Linked DNA regions of Homo sapiens. The protein of the gene in region 4 purifies or fractionates together with the protein of the main gene of each other region. This does not show direct contact. Each region holds a gene or a part of one and is shown on either strand. Other genes may lie near its edges.

The links. The genes of interacting proteins can lie anywhere in the genome.
Region 1: the proteins of NRBP2 (region 4) and FUCA2 purify together in Homo sapiens (affinity purification with mass spectrometry; one large-scale study listed by BioGRID and IntAct). This does not show direct contact.
Region 2: the proteins of NRBP2 (region 4) and FAR1 purify together in Homo sapiens (affinity purification with mass spectrometry; one large-scale study listed by BioGRID and IntAct). This does not show direct contact.
Region 3: the proteins of NRBP2 (region 4) and NUP210 purify together in Homo sapiens (affinity purification with mass spectrometry; one large-scale study listed by BioGRID and IntAct). This does not show direct contact.

What each region holds. Positions count from the first base shown.
Region 1 is NC_000006.12:143,494,721-143,498,220, reverse strand, and holds the end of FUCA2 (plasma alpha-L-fucosidase precursor), read left to right. Parts: intron 1-723; coding exon 724-832; intron 833-2,373; coding exon 2,374-2,514; 3' UTR 2,515-3,409; downstream 3,410-3,500. UniProt on the Homo sapiens protein: Alpha-L-fucosidase is responsible for hydrolyzing the alpha-1,6-linked fucose joined to the reducing-end N-acetylglucosamine of the carbohydrate moieties of glycoproteins.
Region 2 is NC_000011.10:13,724,168-13,727,667, reverse strand, and holds part of FAR1 (fatty acyl-CoA reductase 1), read right to left. Parts: intron 113-3,500; coding exon 1-112. UniProt on the Homo sapiens protein: Catalyzes the reduction of saturated and unsaturated C16 or C18 fatty acyl-CoA to fatty alcohols. It plays an essential role in the production of ether lipids/plasmalogens which synthesis requires fatty alcohols.
Region 3 is NC_000003.12:13,326,323-13,329,822, forward strand, and holds part of NUP210 (nuclear pore membrane glycoprotein 210 precursor), read right to left. Parts: intron 2,625-3,500; coding exon 2,449-2,624; intron 1,116-2,448; coding exon 895-1,115; intron 1-894. UniProt on the Homo sapiens protein: Nucleoporin essential for nuclear pore assembly and fusion, nuclear pore spacing, as well as structural integrity.
Region 4 is NC_000008.11:143,838,174-143,842,269, forward strand, and holds the start of NRBP2 (nuclear receptor-binding protein 2), read right to left. Parts: upstream 2,801-4,096; 5' UTR 2,662-2,800; coding exon 2,533-2,661; intron 2,057-2,532; coding exon 1,934-2,056; intron 1,858-1,933; coding exon 1,756-1,857; intron 1,653-1,755; coding exon 1,563-1,652; intron 1,377-1,562; coding exon 1,336-1,376; intron 1,236-1,335; coding exon 1,141-1,235; intron 1,023-1,140; coding exon 999-1,022; intron 928-998; coding exon 844-927; intron 766-843; coding exon 710-765; intron 603-709; coding exon 507-602; intron 1-506. UniProt on the Homo sapiens protein: May regulate apoptosis of neural progenitor cells during their differentiation.

The sequences.
Region 1 (3,500 bases), on a different chromosome or scaffold from region 4:
ATTTCTTGAGTAATTGAATGAATAAATGAATGAAATCCACTTTTTTTTTTGTCCACAGCATACTTCCCTTACCTTCTTCTTTGCTCCCATTCATCCTTTAAGTCTCAGATTAAATGTTATGTTCCTGGAGAGGCTTCTTTCTGATGTTCTAATCTAAAGAGATCCTTTTGTTATAATCTCTCAATTTCCTTTTCTTTCATGGTGCTTATCAGAACTCACACTTTCATATTATTTGTGTGATTGTTTAGTGTCTGCTTTCCCCACTCTAGTCTAAGCTCCATAAGAACAAGGACTATGTGTGTTTTGTTTTTTATTGTAACTCTAACACTGAGCACAGTACTAGGCACAGAATTGACACATGCATATCTTGTCTTGTTGAATGAATGAATGAATATAAAAATTTGAATAATACATGAAAAGCCATGAAGCTCTTGCATCCTGTCCCCTTAGATCATCTCCCTCCCCTTTTCAGCTCCATGAGAGCAGTCTGATGAAGAGGAATGCTAGCTCAGGAAAATCTTTGTCTTCCAAGAACTTCCTTTTGGTCTTGGGGGAGGAAGGTGTTTTTTTATACCACCATGAGGCTATTTTTCCTTCCCTTCTATTAGTGGTGACATTGTGGAAGTATCTGTAAAATAATTCCAGATTGTTCCTGATCCATAAATAGTGAGAAACATGGGATGTAACTTGCTACTATGCTCTTTATTTTTTTCTTTTAACCAGGTACACATCCAAGCCTAAAGAAAAATTAGTCTATGCCATTTTTCTTAAATGGCCCACATCAGGACAGCTGTTCCTTGGCCATCCCAAAGCTATTCTGGGGGCAACAGAGGTAAGAGGGAATTTTACCTTATTCCTTTAAATTGCTGATTAGAACATCTTGATGCAAACATTAACTTTTAAGGGGAGCCTTATAACTGTTTCACTTATACTTCATAAAAGGAATTGTAAATGAGCTCCAGCCAAGCATTGTGGCTCACACTGTAATTCCAGCACTTTGGGAGGCTAAGGCAGGAGGATGTCTTGAGGCCAGAAGTTTGAGACTAGCCTGGGCAACATAGCAAGACCCCTGTCTACAAAAATTTTTTTTAAAGTTAGCTGAGCATGGTGGCACGCACCTGTAGTCCTAGTTACTCAGGAGGCTGAGGCAGGAGGATTGCTTGAGCCCAGTAGGTCAAGACTACAGTAAGCTATGACTGCACCACTTCAGCCTGTCTCTGAAAAAATAAAATAAAATATAATAAAATAAAATGAATTTCACCAATGACAGTGTTTGGTCAAAATCTTTGAAACTTTTTGTTTCCCAGAAAACTAAGCTGATAAAACAGCTGCAGTATCTCTATGCATATCACTGTAAAATAGACATTATTCTTCACAGTCATTTTACGTTGTTCAAGTTCACTGCATGCATCCAAAATGATTCTTCTCATAAAACTAGAATTCGGATGCTTTCCCTGACACCCCACCCCAGAACATATCTGAATACAAGATGTCATGACTCTACTATTTTATGTTTATAAAACATTTTGGAGAAAGTTAGAGATTAATCTAACTGTTGAAACCACCAGATCTGGCATTGAGTTCATTCTGATATATTTTATAACTTATTTTTTTAAATAAATTATCCCTTTGGAGGTGAACTGTCCATATGGGGGTTCTCCTTGCATCACTTTTCTGCATTTCATTTCTAATACATGTGGTTGATGAGGCAGAAAGAAGATGAGTTCAAATCTAATGTTTAATTACAGCTTAGTAGCCCAGGTATGATACTGATTATGTTTTTATTTTATCTATGTTCTTTTTGGTGCCAATTAACATTATTATTTAAAAGCTCATGGGCTTTGTTTTCATATTGATCCACCTGAGAAGCAAAGTTTTTGGTTCAAAATAACCCTAGAATATGTAGGGAACTTATTTGAATTTGCTTAGTATAGTAAGACTAAGAATATAAAACAATTACAGTAATAATTGATCAAATTTATGTATTATTGATTAGTGGAGGTTATTAGAAAATCTGGGGGAGGAACGCTGAGTAGATACTTGGGCAGACTCTGGTTTCAGAGCCACTTTCTGCTCCTGATCCTCTCTTTAGCTTTTTCTCCACTCTGAGACTCCATTCAGTCTTGAAAATTCTCCTTCCCCAACCCCTGCACACTTCTATTTCCCTCTTGAGAGTAAAATAGAAGCAAGAATATAGAGGCAAGATACATACACTCAATTGGATGAAGAGTGATTGTGAATCACTAAATAAAGGTAAAAATGAACCTCTTGTCTACAATTTTGTTTGAACTACTAATCACTCCTTCCCAATAGAAAGTGGGTGAGATAAAGAGATAAATTTGGAGACATTTGCATGTATGTTTTTAATTTCAGGTGAAACTACTGGGCCATGGACAGCCACTTAACTGGATTTCTTTGGAGCAAAATGGCATTATGGTAGAACTGCCACAGCTAACCATTCATCAGATGCCGTGTAAATGGGGCTGGGCTCTAGCCCTGACTAATGTGATCTAAAGTGCAGCAGAGTGGCTGATGCTGCAAGTTATGTCTAAGGCTAGGAACTATCAGGTGTCTATAATTGTAGCACATGGAGAAAGCAAATGTAAAACTGGATAAGAAAATTATTTTGGCAGTTCAGCCCTTTCCCTTTTTCCCACTAAATTTTTTCTTAAATTACCCATGTAACCATTTTAACTCTCCAGTGCACTTTGCCATTAAAGTCTCTTCACATTGATTTGTTTCCATGTGTGACTCAGAGGTGAGAATTTTTTCACATTATAGTAGCAAGGAATTGGTGGTATTATGGACCGAACTGAAAATTTTATGTTGAAGCCATATCCCCCATGATTATATAGTTATGCATCACTTAATATGGGGATATTTTCTGGGAAATGCATTGCTAGTCAATTTTTTTTTGTGCCAACATCATAGAGTGTATTTACAAAATCCTAGATGGCATAGCCTACTACACACCTAATGTGTATGGTATAGACTGTTGCTCCTAGGCTACAGACATATACAGCATGTTACTGAATACTGTAGGCAATAGTAACAGTGGTATTTGTATATCGAAACATATGGAAACATAGAGAAGGTACAGTAAAAATACTGTAAAATAAATGGTGCACCTGTATAGGGCACTTACCACGAATGGAGCTTACAGGACTGGAAGTTGCTCTGGGTGAGTCAGTGAGTGAATGTGAAGGCCTAGGACATTATTGAACACTGCCAGACTTTATAAATACTGTATGCTTAGGCTACACTACATTTATAAAAAAAAGTTTTTCTTTCTTCAATTATAAATTAACATAAGTGTACTGTAACTTTACAAACGTTTTAATTTTTAAAACCTTTTTGGCTCTTTTGTAATAACACTTAGCTTAAAACATAAACTCATTGTGCAAATGTACAAAAATATTTTCTTTCTTCATATTCTTATTCTATAAGCTTTTTTCTATTTTTAAAATTTTTAACTTTTTACTTTTACAGAAACACACACA
Region 2 (3,500 bases), on a different chromosome or scaffold from region 4:
TGGCTGCAGGGAGGCCAGACATTTCTTCATTCAATACGTACTTCTTAGTTCCCAAGCAGTAGTTCTCTATATATTCTGCCCAATGTAACTGCCGTACATCAATATTGAAGGTCTACGTTAACAAAAAAATTACTGATTATTTTCTTGACTAATTTTTCTCACAACCAGTCAGAAATTCACACTTTTTCTAAAGGCCAGTTCCAAGTGACATAATTACAAAATTCTTAAATACAGAATTAACTTCTGAAATCTTACCGCTAGTCACTGAAAAGTTTGTATTCCTAGTTCATACCATCCATTAAACATGGAAACATTTGAGAAGATAATCTGGAAACTAATGTCAGCATTTAAAGAGAAGTAGGTTAAATATAAGAAGAAAAAAGCCTGTACCATTTTGCTAAACAAAGAAAAAAAAAGACAAAATTATATTGTCCACATAGATCTATGTATTCCTCACTACTTTATGCACGTACTGATACATTTCCAGTTCATGCCTACTGAACAGACTAATTTTCCTGGAGAATACTTCTGACATCAAGATGCGTTATGAAAACAACATCTCTGACATCAAGATATGTTATGAAAGCTGGCTAAGGAGTTTGGATAACAGTAATTAGATTATTTGATGAGAAGGATAGGTAAATCCAGAAAAGAAAGCCTTCAGAAATGTTATGGCAAAGTAAGAGGGCTATGCATTGCTCAGTGCTCCTTAGCATATAATAAGATAATTTTTTGGAGTTACAAAGATATTATTCAGTATATACCATCACTTATCTAAAAATAGCCAATTCTAGGAAGGGAAAGCTACTATAAAAAATTCAGTAAAATATAAAAATGCAGTAACTCTGCATTAAAATGAAGACTTAGGAAACATTTTGAGAAGGTATATGTGTATGTTATTGGGAATCCCATAAGAACAGTTATTTAAAAAAAAAAAAAAGGAAGAGAAGCAGTATCTGAGAAGACAATGCCTGGAAATTTTCCAAAAATAAGAAACCAAGTCACCAATTCAAAACACAAATACAACTCCCACTGCCCCCATCCCTGCCCCCACACACATCTAGGCATATGAGAGTCAGAAAAAGGTCCTATAGATTACCTCCAAAAGAACAACTATTAGACTGTAAGTTGACTTCTCAACAGAAGCAATGAAAGCCAAAAGACAGAGATGTTTTCTAAGTACGCAATGAAAATAAGTCCTAAATAAAACTCTATGCCAGTGTAAATATCCTTGAAAAATAAAGGTGAAATAAAGATATTTCCAGAGAATAAAACCTGAGACAATCTGACATCAGCAGAAAACCCATGTTAGAGAAAGTAAACTTAAGGATATTCTTTAGGCAGGAGAATGATTCTAGATTTATGTCTGGGGATGGAGGAAGAAATAAAGAGCAATAAAAGGACAGTTACGCTGGTAAATCTGTATGAATATTTATTGCATAAGCTGCAATAAAAATACTGGCTTGTGTGGCTTAATATATATATAGAATTAAAACATGCATTATGGCCAAAACCACAATTACTTTTGCACCAACCTAATAACAACAATAACAGATACATGCTGATCCTTCACTATCAGAGAAGGATAAAAGTATCAATTTATATTAGACCTTGCTAAATTAAAGGACATTGTAATCTCTAGAGTAACCTACTAAACCAAAAAGGAACATAATTCTATGTAACACATATAGATGGGAAAATATTAAATTATTCAAAACATAATCTAAAGGGCGGCCAAAAAAAAAAGAAAAAAGAACTTAAAACCAGAGTGACAAATACAAAGCACTACTAGTCAGACTAAATCTAAAATGATAGGAATTACATAGGGGTTAAGTTCTCCAATTAAAGGTCAAAAATTGTCAGACTGAAAATAAAAACTAACAGCTATATGCTGCTTACAACTAACTATATGCTGCTTACAAAAGACATATCTAAAAGATAAGATACAAAATGACTGAAAATAAAAGAATGGAGAAACATACACCATATAGTTCTACCAGCAATGTGTAAGGATGCTGATTTGTCCAGGAACTCACTAGAGTACATTGTCCAAGTCTGCATTTTTGTAAATTTGATAAATAGTAAATAATATCCCAGTCTAACTTTAGTCTGCATTTCCACTGAGTAAAGCTGAGTATCTTTTCAAATACTTGGGAATCATTTTCTGTAAACTGTTCATCTCTCTAATCTATTTTCCAATAGGATTACTTTTTTTTTTTTTTTTACTATTTTTAAATAAACATTTTATGTACTAGGTAATGTATACTAAAATCATTTTGTTATACCACTATATATCACCTAAGTGGCTAAAATTGAAAATCAAAATTAAAAGGCCAAGTGTTATGGAGGATGTGGATTAACAGGAACTCTCATACACTGCCCTCTGGAATGTAAACTGATACAACCACTTTGGAAAACTGCCATTACCTGCTAAACTGAACATATGAATGCCCTATGCTATCCTATTTCTAGGTATATACCCTACACAAATGTGTACATATAGACATAAAGAATGTTCATAGGATAATTATTCCTAATAGCCAGAAACTGGAAATAACTCAAATGTCTATCAACAGAAGAATGAAAAAATACTGTATAATACCATTTATATAAAGTCAAAAATAGGTAAAACTAATATTGAGTGCTAGAATTCAAGAGTTGTTCCCTCTGGGAAGACAGAGGAGGTAGTGATTAGGTGCATTAGTCCATTCTCGCAACCCTACAAAGAACTACCTGAGAATGGGTAATTTGTAAAGATAAAAAGGTTTAACTGGCTCATGGTTCTGCAGGCAGTACAGGCTTCTGTTTCTGTACCCACCTGTGCCTCTTGGGCACTTTTAATATGGCTAGTCCAAACTGAGACATGCAGTGGAGTATAAAATGCACTCTGGGTTTTGAAGGCTCAGTATGAAAAAACAGAAAGTAATATCCTTTAAATAATTTTTAGGTTTTTGATATGTTCAAACAATATTTTTGATTATATGTTAGGTTAAATAAAACATTATGAAAATAAAAAAAGTAAGTGGGAAGAGAAAGGAAGCTGGCACTGGATGAAAAAAGAAACTCTTGAGAAACTGTAATGACCCAAATCTACAGTCTTTTTTTTTTTTTTTTTTTTGAGGCGGAGTCTCGTTCTGTCACCCAGGCTGGAGTGCAGTGACACAATCTCGGCTCCCTGCAACCTCTGCCTCCTAGGCTCAATCCATCCTCCCACCTCAGCCTCCCAAGTAGTTGGGACTACAGGCATGCGCCACCACGCCTGGCTAATTTTTCTTTTTTTTTTCTGTAGAGAGAGGGTCTCACTTTGTTGCCCAGGCTGGTCTCGAACTCCTGAGCTCAAGTTATCCCAGCACTGGCCTCCCAAAGTGCTGGGATTACAGGTGTGAGCCACCACGCCCGGCCCCTACTGTCTATTTAAGGCCTACATTAATCTGAGTTGTGCTAAAAACCTAATCAGATATTTTAAAGGGGCCCTGGCTTATAAATGCCAGCTAGCTAAT
Region 3 (3,500 bases), on a different chromosome or scaffold from region 4:
TCCCCATCCCTTCGTTGCCTTATCAATTCCTTTTTAGCAACAGACAGCAGGTGTGAGGCTCAGAGCTTTCACCACATACACATCTGAGTTAAAAGCCAATCACATTATATAATAAGTACAATTAAAGGACTCAACCATAATCTATTTATGGCAAATTATATTTGTTTTTCCTTAAAGGTAGTATTTCATCTCCTTTTAAAATGAATTTAGTAAGGTTAAAAAAAAAGGTGGAGACAATTTGAAAATAAAAGCTAAGTAAATAATTGTACACGTGTTCCACAGATGTACTACAGGTCACCTGGGCATGGCTGAAATTTGGAAGCCCCTGATTTAGCCCAGTGTCCTTCTTTGCTTAAGTCTCCCAGCCTGTGCTGTCCACTATGGCGGCCACTTCCCACAGAATTCACTAAAATGGTGAATTCAGTTCCTCAGCAGCAGCAGAGATCCGTGTGTCTCCTGGCTAGAGGAACTGAGTGAGACTATGCAGAGACAGGATGCCCCACAGGGGCAGGGGACCCCCCCACCGACTTGGCAGAGCTGTTCCAGAAAAGGGCTGGCAAATGCTTTCTGTGAAGGTCGGACATAAGCATTTGGGCTATGCAGCCCATACAATCTCTGCTATGACCACACAATCTGGCAGTGGTAGGGTGACAACAGCCACTGACCATACATAATGCATGGCACAGCTGAGTGCCAACAAAAATTTACTTGCAGAAAACAGGCACAGGCTGGATCTGGTCTCCGGGCAGCAGTTTTGGAGCACTGCTCCTGAGTATCCTGCAGGTCTGCCTGTAGGCCCCCGTGACTGGTGCCGAGCCCCTGCCCAGGTAGCCCCCACCCAGCTTTGCAAGCGTCCGTGACTCCACAGGTTCCCTTGCTCAGGATCTATCTTACCTTCCAGGCTGGTCAGAACAGTGGCCAGACAGAGCACGTCCCCCACCACCATGGCCCCAGACAGCTCTGGGGAGATGGCCTGTAGGACAGGCAGGGGCATGAAGTCCGAGAGGCCCGGGTGCTCTGCGTCCCACACACGGAGCAGTGTCAGGCCCACGCTGACTGTGCGGACAACGCAGGTGTTGTTGGTGGGGCCCTTCCCGATCTGCACAAAGTCGTCTCTAGGCACAGGAGAGAAAGGAGGGCTCTCAGTCTCGGGAAAGAAGCTTCCAACTCCCAAAGGGAGAAACGTAATCCATGTCCTCTGCTGAGCAAAGCATTCAACTGACTGAGGTCCCAGGTGTGGCCCCAACTCGAGGTTACCAAGCAGTGGCCCCAGATGAGGGACCACTGCAGGCAGGTGGCACAGGCTCGACCTCCTCACTTGTCATGCCAGAAAGCACATGCAGCTCGCAGCCAAACAGTGGCAGCAGCATCATTCCTGCATTTCAGAAAGGAAGCTGAGGCCCCGAGGGGAAAGAGATCCAGAGTGCTTCCTCACGCTCTTCCCACCAGGGAACTGGACATGCCAGAAAGGGAAGGCTGCCCTTACTATGCAACCTGACTGCAGAAGCAGCCTCTGCCCCTTTCCTCCTCTGAAAAATGGGGATCATCACGTGACCGTGACGCAGGCCTGGCATAAGCATTACATGAGGTCAGCAGTGGGGAGGCACCTGCCACAGGGCAGGTGCTCAGTCAATGTTGGCAATGGCAGCTTTGGTGCAGAAGTGTGGACTGCGTGGGGTGACAGTTTGGGTTAGGGATCATGGCTGCATCCTTGCCTCCACCACACCTTCTGACCCTGAGTGCTGACTAGGTCTCTATCAGGTGCTCCTGCTACAAGAAGGCCAGAATGACCTGCAGTGCAGCCAAAGGGCTGGGAGAACTGGGCTCCATTTCCTCCAGGACATGCCCTAAACTGATGGATGGCAATTATGTGCGCACACACGGAGTGCCATGGTTTGCCAGCGGTCCTCATGACCACTCCCTCAGCTGAAGGAAAGCCCTGGAACCTAGGCCATATTGCCCAACGTGAGAGGTGTGGAAACAGATTTTTGGATGGTGACCTACTCACAGGGCCCACGAAGGGCAGAGCTGGGGCTAGAACCAGGCCTGACTCTAAACCCCAGTTCTTTCCATAAGGCAACACCCCTGACACCTGTCTTTGAATGCATTCAGCAACAGGGAAACACAACTGTGGCAGGACCTGTGGGCAGCCGAAGCTGAAGGGCCAATTTCCTGTGCCTCGGGGAGCACTCCCTGGAGCTGCCCCATGCCCTGTTTCCTCCTTTGGGGGCTGATGCCTGTCTGTCTTCCTCTGAGCTGGTCTACATCCCCCAAGGGCAGTGGTGTTTCCTCGTGGCCCTGCATGGTGCAGCATGCCCACATCTCTTGGAAACTGAAGTAATACACATCTTCCTTCAACAGCAGCAGACTTTCTGTGTTATCCCCAGTTGTCTCTACCAGGTACCAGACAGGACTTCATAGGAGAAATGACCCTTGCCCACATCCTACCTGTTAGTGGCAAAGTTGAGGACCGAACTGTGAGCATGGAAGACATCTCCAGAGTTGTCGTGGAAGTGGACAGTGAAGGTCACGGTCATTCCCAAAGGCACGGCCACCAGGGCCTCCTTGTTCTGGGTGTGCAGGACAGGGCTCATGGAAACCCTCAGGTAGGAAACAGGGGATACCTAAGGGACAACATACAGGTATGATGAGGATTCAGTGCCAGGGACTGGCCTCCAGGAAAACCCACCTCCCAAGGAGGGGACACCTGCCCCCAGCAGGATCCACCTCAGGAACAATGCAGGGCTGGACTTAGGGGTCCTGAGAGGAGTAAAGGCCACACTCCCCAGAGTGTCCCAACCTAGTGACAAGGTTCTTACTTCCCAACACAGCAGACTGGCCTCTCTATGAGAAAACCCACCCAGGAGTGTCCCAATCCATGACTTGAATAAATGAGATCACTATTTACATTGCAAGAGGGCCCCCTGGGCTGCAAATGTCCAGTTTCTTCAGAGAACCTGGCTCTTGGGGCATTTAAAGAAACGAAATCCTCCTCGATCGCAGGGGCAGCGCTAAGCAGGCCACAGCATGCCCTGCAGGCCACCAGGGGAAGGAGGGAAATGGGGATTTCTGGAGCCCAAGAACCCGAGCTCCATAAACAGCAGCCCTTGTTTCTCTGAGTCCAGGTGAAAATCTATCCTCGCTCAAAAGCTAGTGCTCCAAAGGTCTGAATTTCTTTAACAAAGTTCAGTGGTGCAGTGTCTGGTATACAGCTAGTGCTCAGTACATATTTGTTGAAATAGGATGAGCAGTCAGTCACTTTCACTCACCAAAAACTAGAGCGGGGGATTTGCTGCCAGGCACCCATTTTGAAACAAAATGATGTGAATTAATGAAAGAGGTCTGTGACCCAGGCAGAGTCTAAAGATTTAAGTGAGTGTGTGTCTTCTGTCATCCAGGGTTCAGCAAGTGGTGATGATGAGACATGGAAAGAAAATTCCATTCAGCAAAACCCCAGGACCTGACCCAGGGATGCTGATGGAGAAGGTCCCATCCGTAAG
Region 4 (4,096 bases):
TCCTGAGGCCATGGAGTTAAGTCTAGACTCCGAGCAGAGGGGGCTGTGGATGCAGCTTCCATCCCATACCTCTTTTTGCCTGCTTGGCACCCACCATGTCCCCCCACAAGCTGGAGCCTCATCACCTCCTGGAAGCTTAAAGTCAAGGACTTGGAGTGAAGCAGACCCAGGTGCAGATGTTGGCTCCACCACTCACTCTAAAGCCTTGGGCAAAGGACTCATCTCCTCTGAACCTTGGTTTCTTTATAAAACGGGCATGGTGATGGCAGCCACAGAGGGAGGGTCTCTCTTGCCTTCTTGTCCTTAGAATGTGCTGACCCCTTAGGGCCTTCAGGCCTGGAACCAGTATGTGCTCCCACTGAGGTCCTCTTTGGGAGGGGTGCAGTCAGCTGGTATACCCCTCAACTGCACAAACTGTGATGTTCTCCCAGGTCTGCCTGGAGCACCTTGCTAGCCCTAGCTGAGCACGGTGAGCCAGCTGGGGAGGGGCAGGGCAAGCTGCTTACCCGCATGTTGGGGTCACTCAGCGAGTGCCTGGCGCGAGCAATGGCCTCCTCTGTGACCCGGGTGTCCCCATTGGTCTGGATTTCCAGTACAGCCATCTGGGGCACAGAGCCAGGTCAGGCATGGGGAAGGGACCACACAGGTGAGCCAGGCAGGGCACAGTTAGGAGGAGGGCAGAGCACAAGGTGGAGGGCGGGGGCAGTACCTCCAGCGCACACATCCCAAAGGAGAAGATGTCCACAGCGGTCCCATCGGCCACCTCTGAACAGAAGAGAGCACAGGACACGTAGGAGAGAAGCGCAGGGTAGGCACGGGGCACCCGGACCCAGCACCACTCACCTCCATACTCTGGGGGGAAGAAGTGCAGGTTCCGAAGTTCCTCTCGCTCAGCGCGGATGGGGCTTCGGAGATCATCTGGAAGTGCTGTGGGAGGGCGCAGAGCTGAGCGGGCGGGGACCTCTCCAGGACCCCGTCCCCCCAAAGTCCGCACTTACCATTGGAGAAGATTCGGTGCCACACTGCCAAGGGGCGGGAGAAAGAGTGGAGTTAGCTGCTGGGGCATCAGAACTCCTCTGCCCTTGGCTCCAGGCACCTTCCCCTGCCCCGTTCCCCCACCCAGCCCTGCCCCGCCAGCACCGGAGCCGATCTTGATGAGGCCGTTGTGCTGAATGAAGATGGTGTCGCTGGTCAGGTTCCCGTGGATGATTGGGGGGCTGCAGGCGTGCAGGAAGCTGCAGACGTTGGGGAGGGGAGAGTAGGAGGAGCCGGTCAGGAGGCTCTGGAGAGATGGGGGCTCGGTGGCGCCGCGCCCAGGCCAGCCCAGGCCCTCACCTGAGCGCAGACAGGATCTGCGTGCACCAGCGCTTCCAGGCCTGGCGGCGGACGCACGACTCCGTCGGTCGGGTGGGCGCAGGAGAGGCGGCTGGGCCTGCGGAGCCCGCCCCGCATCCTCGCCCAGCCCCTGTCCGAGGCCGCCGGGCACCCCCTCACCATCCCAGTCCCCGAGGCTGCCCCAACCCCGTCCTGTCCCCGTGGCTGCCCCAGCCCGCTCCCCATACCCGGGCGTTCATGGCCTTGTGGTTCTTCTTGGTCTTTTTGAGGAATTGCTTGAGGCTGCCTGATGACACGTACTCTGTGATGAAGATGACCTGCACGGTGCGAGCTCAGGATTTCCACCAGCTGCGGGTTCGTCCCCATGCCCGCCCCACCTAGCTGTGGTCTCTGCCTGCCCGGGGCCTTGCCCGTGCTCACCCTCGCGCAGGCCTCAGAGGTATCCAGCCAGTACTTGTGCAACTTCACGATGTTCGGGTGGTCCACCAGCACCAGCTGCTCGAACACGGTCTGGATCTTCTCCTGGGGAGGGAGGGTGGTCGCTGGGTGGTCAGCAGGTGGTCACCCAAGCAGGATGAGGAGGGGGCAGCGGTCTCACCTCGTGCGCCGCGAAGGCCTTCCTGTCTCCGAAGTGGAGCTCGTTCCACACCACCTCTACCCCCTCCTCCGTGTCCATGGCTAGGAAGGTGCTCTGAAGCCCTGGCATGTTCCCTTGGTTTACCTGGGGGTGAATAAAGGGTTATGTGTGCCCTGGTGTGTGTCAGGGTTGTGGGTGAGGATTTGGTCCCTGTCCACACCTTTCCAGTGGGCCCAAGCGTGGGCTGCAGGCCCTGAGCCACTCTGCGGGAAGGTGGGGCTTGGAGGGTAGCTGCCCCCAGGAGCCAAGGGCTCCTATCCAAGGGCTGGGCTAAGGGGATTTGGAGCAGGTTTCAGGGGGTCGAGGGGGATCCCCAGGAAGCTAGCGGCTGAGTCCAGAGGCATGGGGAGGTGGTCCTGGGAGGAGACTGGCCCTCAGGGAGTCCCAGGGCGAGCGCCAGGCCAAAGGGGTCCAGGGGTGGCTGATTCGCGGGCCGCGAGGGGCCGCGGAGAGGTTTCCAGCCGCCGCGCTCTCCCAGCGCCCCCACGCCCCGCGCAGCCTCCAGGCCCCTCCCGCTCTGGGAGGGCGGTGTCACCCCGTGCCCCAACCCCCGCGCCCACCTGCTCCCGTCGCTTTTGCCAGCGACCACACGGGCTTTCCTCCAGGATGTCGCTCTCGTCCTCGCTCTCGTCCTCCCGCTCCCGCTCCCGTTCCCGGGCCCGCCTCGGCGCCGGCTCCGGGGCCGCCATGGTTCGGCCAGCCCAGGCCACCGCCCTCTGCGCGATCCGCCGCCGGCGCAGCCTCTCCCGGCCCGCCCTGGCCTCGCGCCCAGCAGCCCAGCCTAGAGCCGCCGCGGCAGCCTAGAGCCCCAGCCCCGGCTCTGGGAATTGGGAGGCGCGGGCGCGCGGCGGACGGGCGGGGCCCGGGGGCGGAGCCGGCGCGCACCTCCCGAGCCGCCTGTGCCTGCCGGAGCCAGAGCAGAGCTTCCCCGAGAGCTGCCGAGCCCGGGCCGCGCCCAGGCCCCGCCCCCCCGGAGGCCCCGCCCCGCGAAGCCCCGCCCCAGTCCCTGTTTCCTCCTCGTCTCCCAGGCCTGCTCCGCGAAGCCCCTCCCCAGGCCCTGTCCCCTCCTCGTCCTCCAAGCCTCCTTCGCGAAGCCCCGCCCCAGGACCCGCCCCACCCCCGCGAATCCCCGCCCCGTTTTAGTCCCCGCCCCCGCCCGTTCCCAGGGTCCTCCGCGAAGCCCCACCCCAGGCCCCGCCTCACCTCCTCGAAGCCCCGCCCCTATGAGGCCCCGCCCCGCGCAGAGGAACCGCCCCCAAATCCCCGCCCCCTCGGAGGCCCCGCCCTGCGGACACCTGGAGCCCGGAGCGCCCACTTCTCTCGCGGTTGCTCCCCTAGGATCTGGGGGAAGACCCGGGGCATCTGGGGGCCCCCAAGCCCACGGCACCCTCCAGCTGCAGAAGACCCCGCGGGCTCGAAAGCGGGACCCGCTCTCCTGGCCACGCACTCATTCCCCGGCCGACCCCCAAGGGACAGGTCGAAGGGGCACCGAGGGCGGGGGAAAGGCCCACCAGCAGGCTGACCCAGGCTGACTTTGATCGGTGACCACGAATCTCTCCCTGGCCCGCCCACCAGTGCCTCCTCCCGCCCACAAGCCCATCTTCTCACTTTCCAGGATGGCGATTTTCTCTTTTCTCCTCAAACGCGCATTTCCTTTCCGCGGCTGGCTCCCATGGGACAGTGGAACCATGAGGGGGGAGCCCACCCGGCTCACACGACCTCTCCCTCCGGAGGCCGCTCTAAGCACACCCTCCAGCCACGCCGACCACCGGGGCTGTCCCCGATTCTCACCTAAAACCCCCTTCAGCCCACAGCCCCCACGGCCTTCCTGTGGTCTCCTCCCTCCTTCACGGCGGGTCCTCATCCTTTACCTTCTCTCTCTGGAGCCCAAATTGGAACTCCGCTCCTCCCCTCCGCGCAGCTCCATGCACTGGCCCTTTGGGACGCCTCTTTCTTTCTTTGGCAGAGGTGCATCTGGCCCTGCTGCGTCCCCTGTGGTCTCTCTTTTCTGACCAGCCTTGGTCACCAGGCACCTTGTGTGTGGTTTCCACCAATGCCAGGTGATCCTGCTGAGGCCCTCTGCAGTAAAGGTTTGGGGTGTTCAAATCCTCCACCCTGAAACTG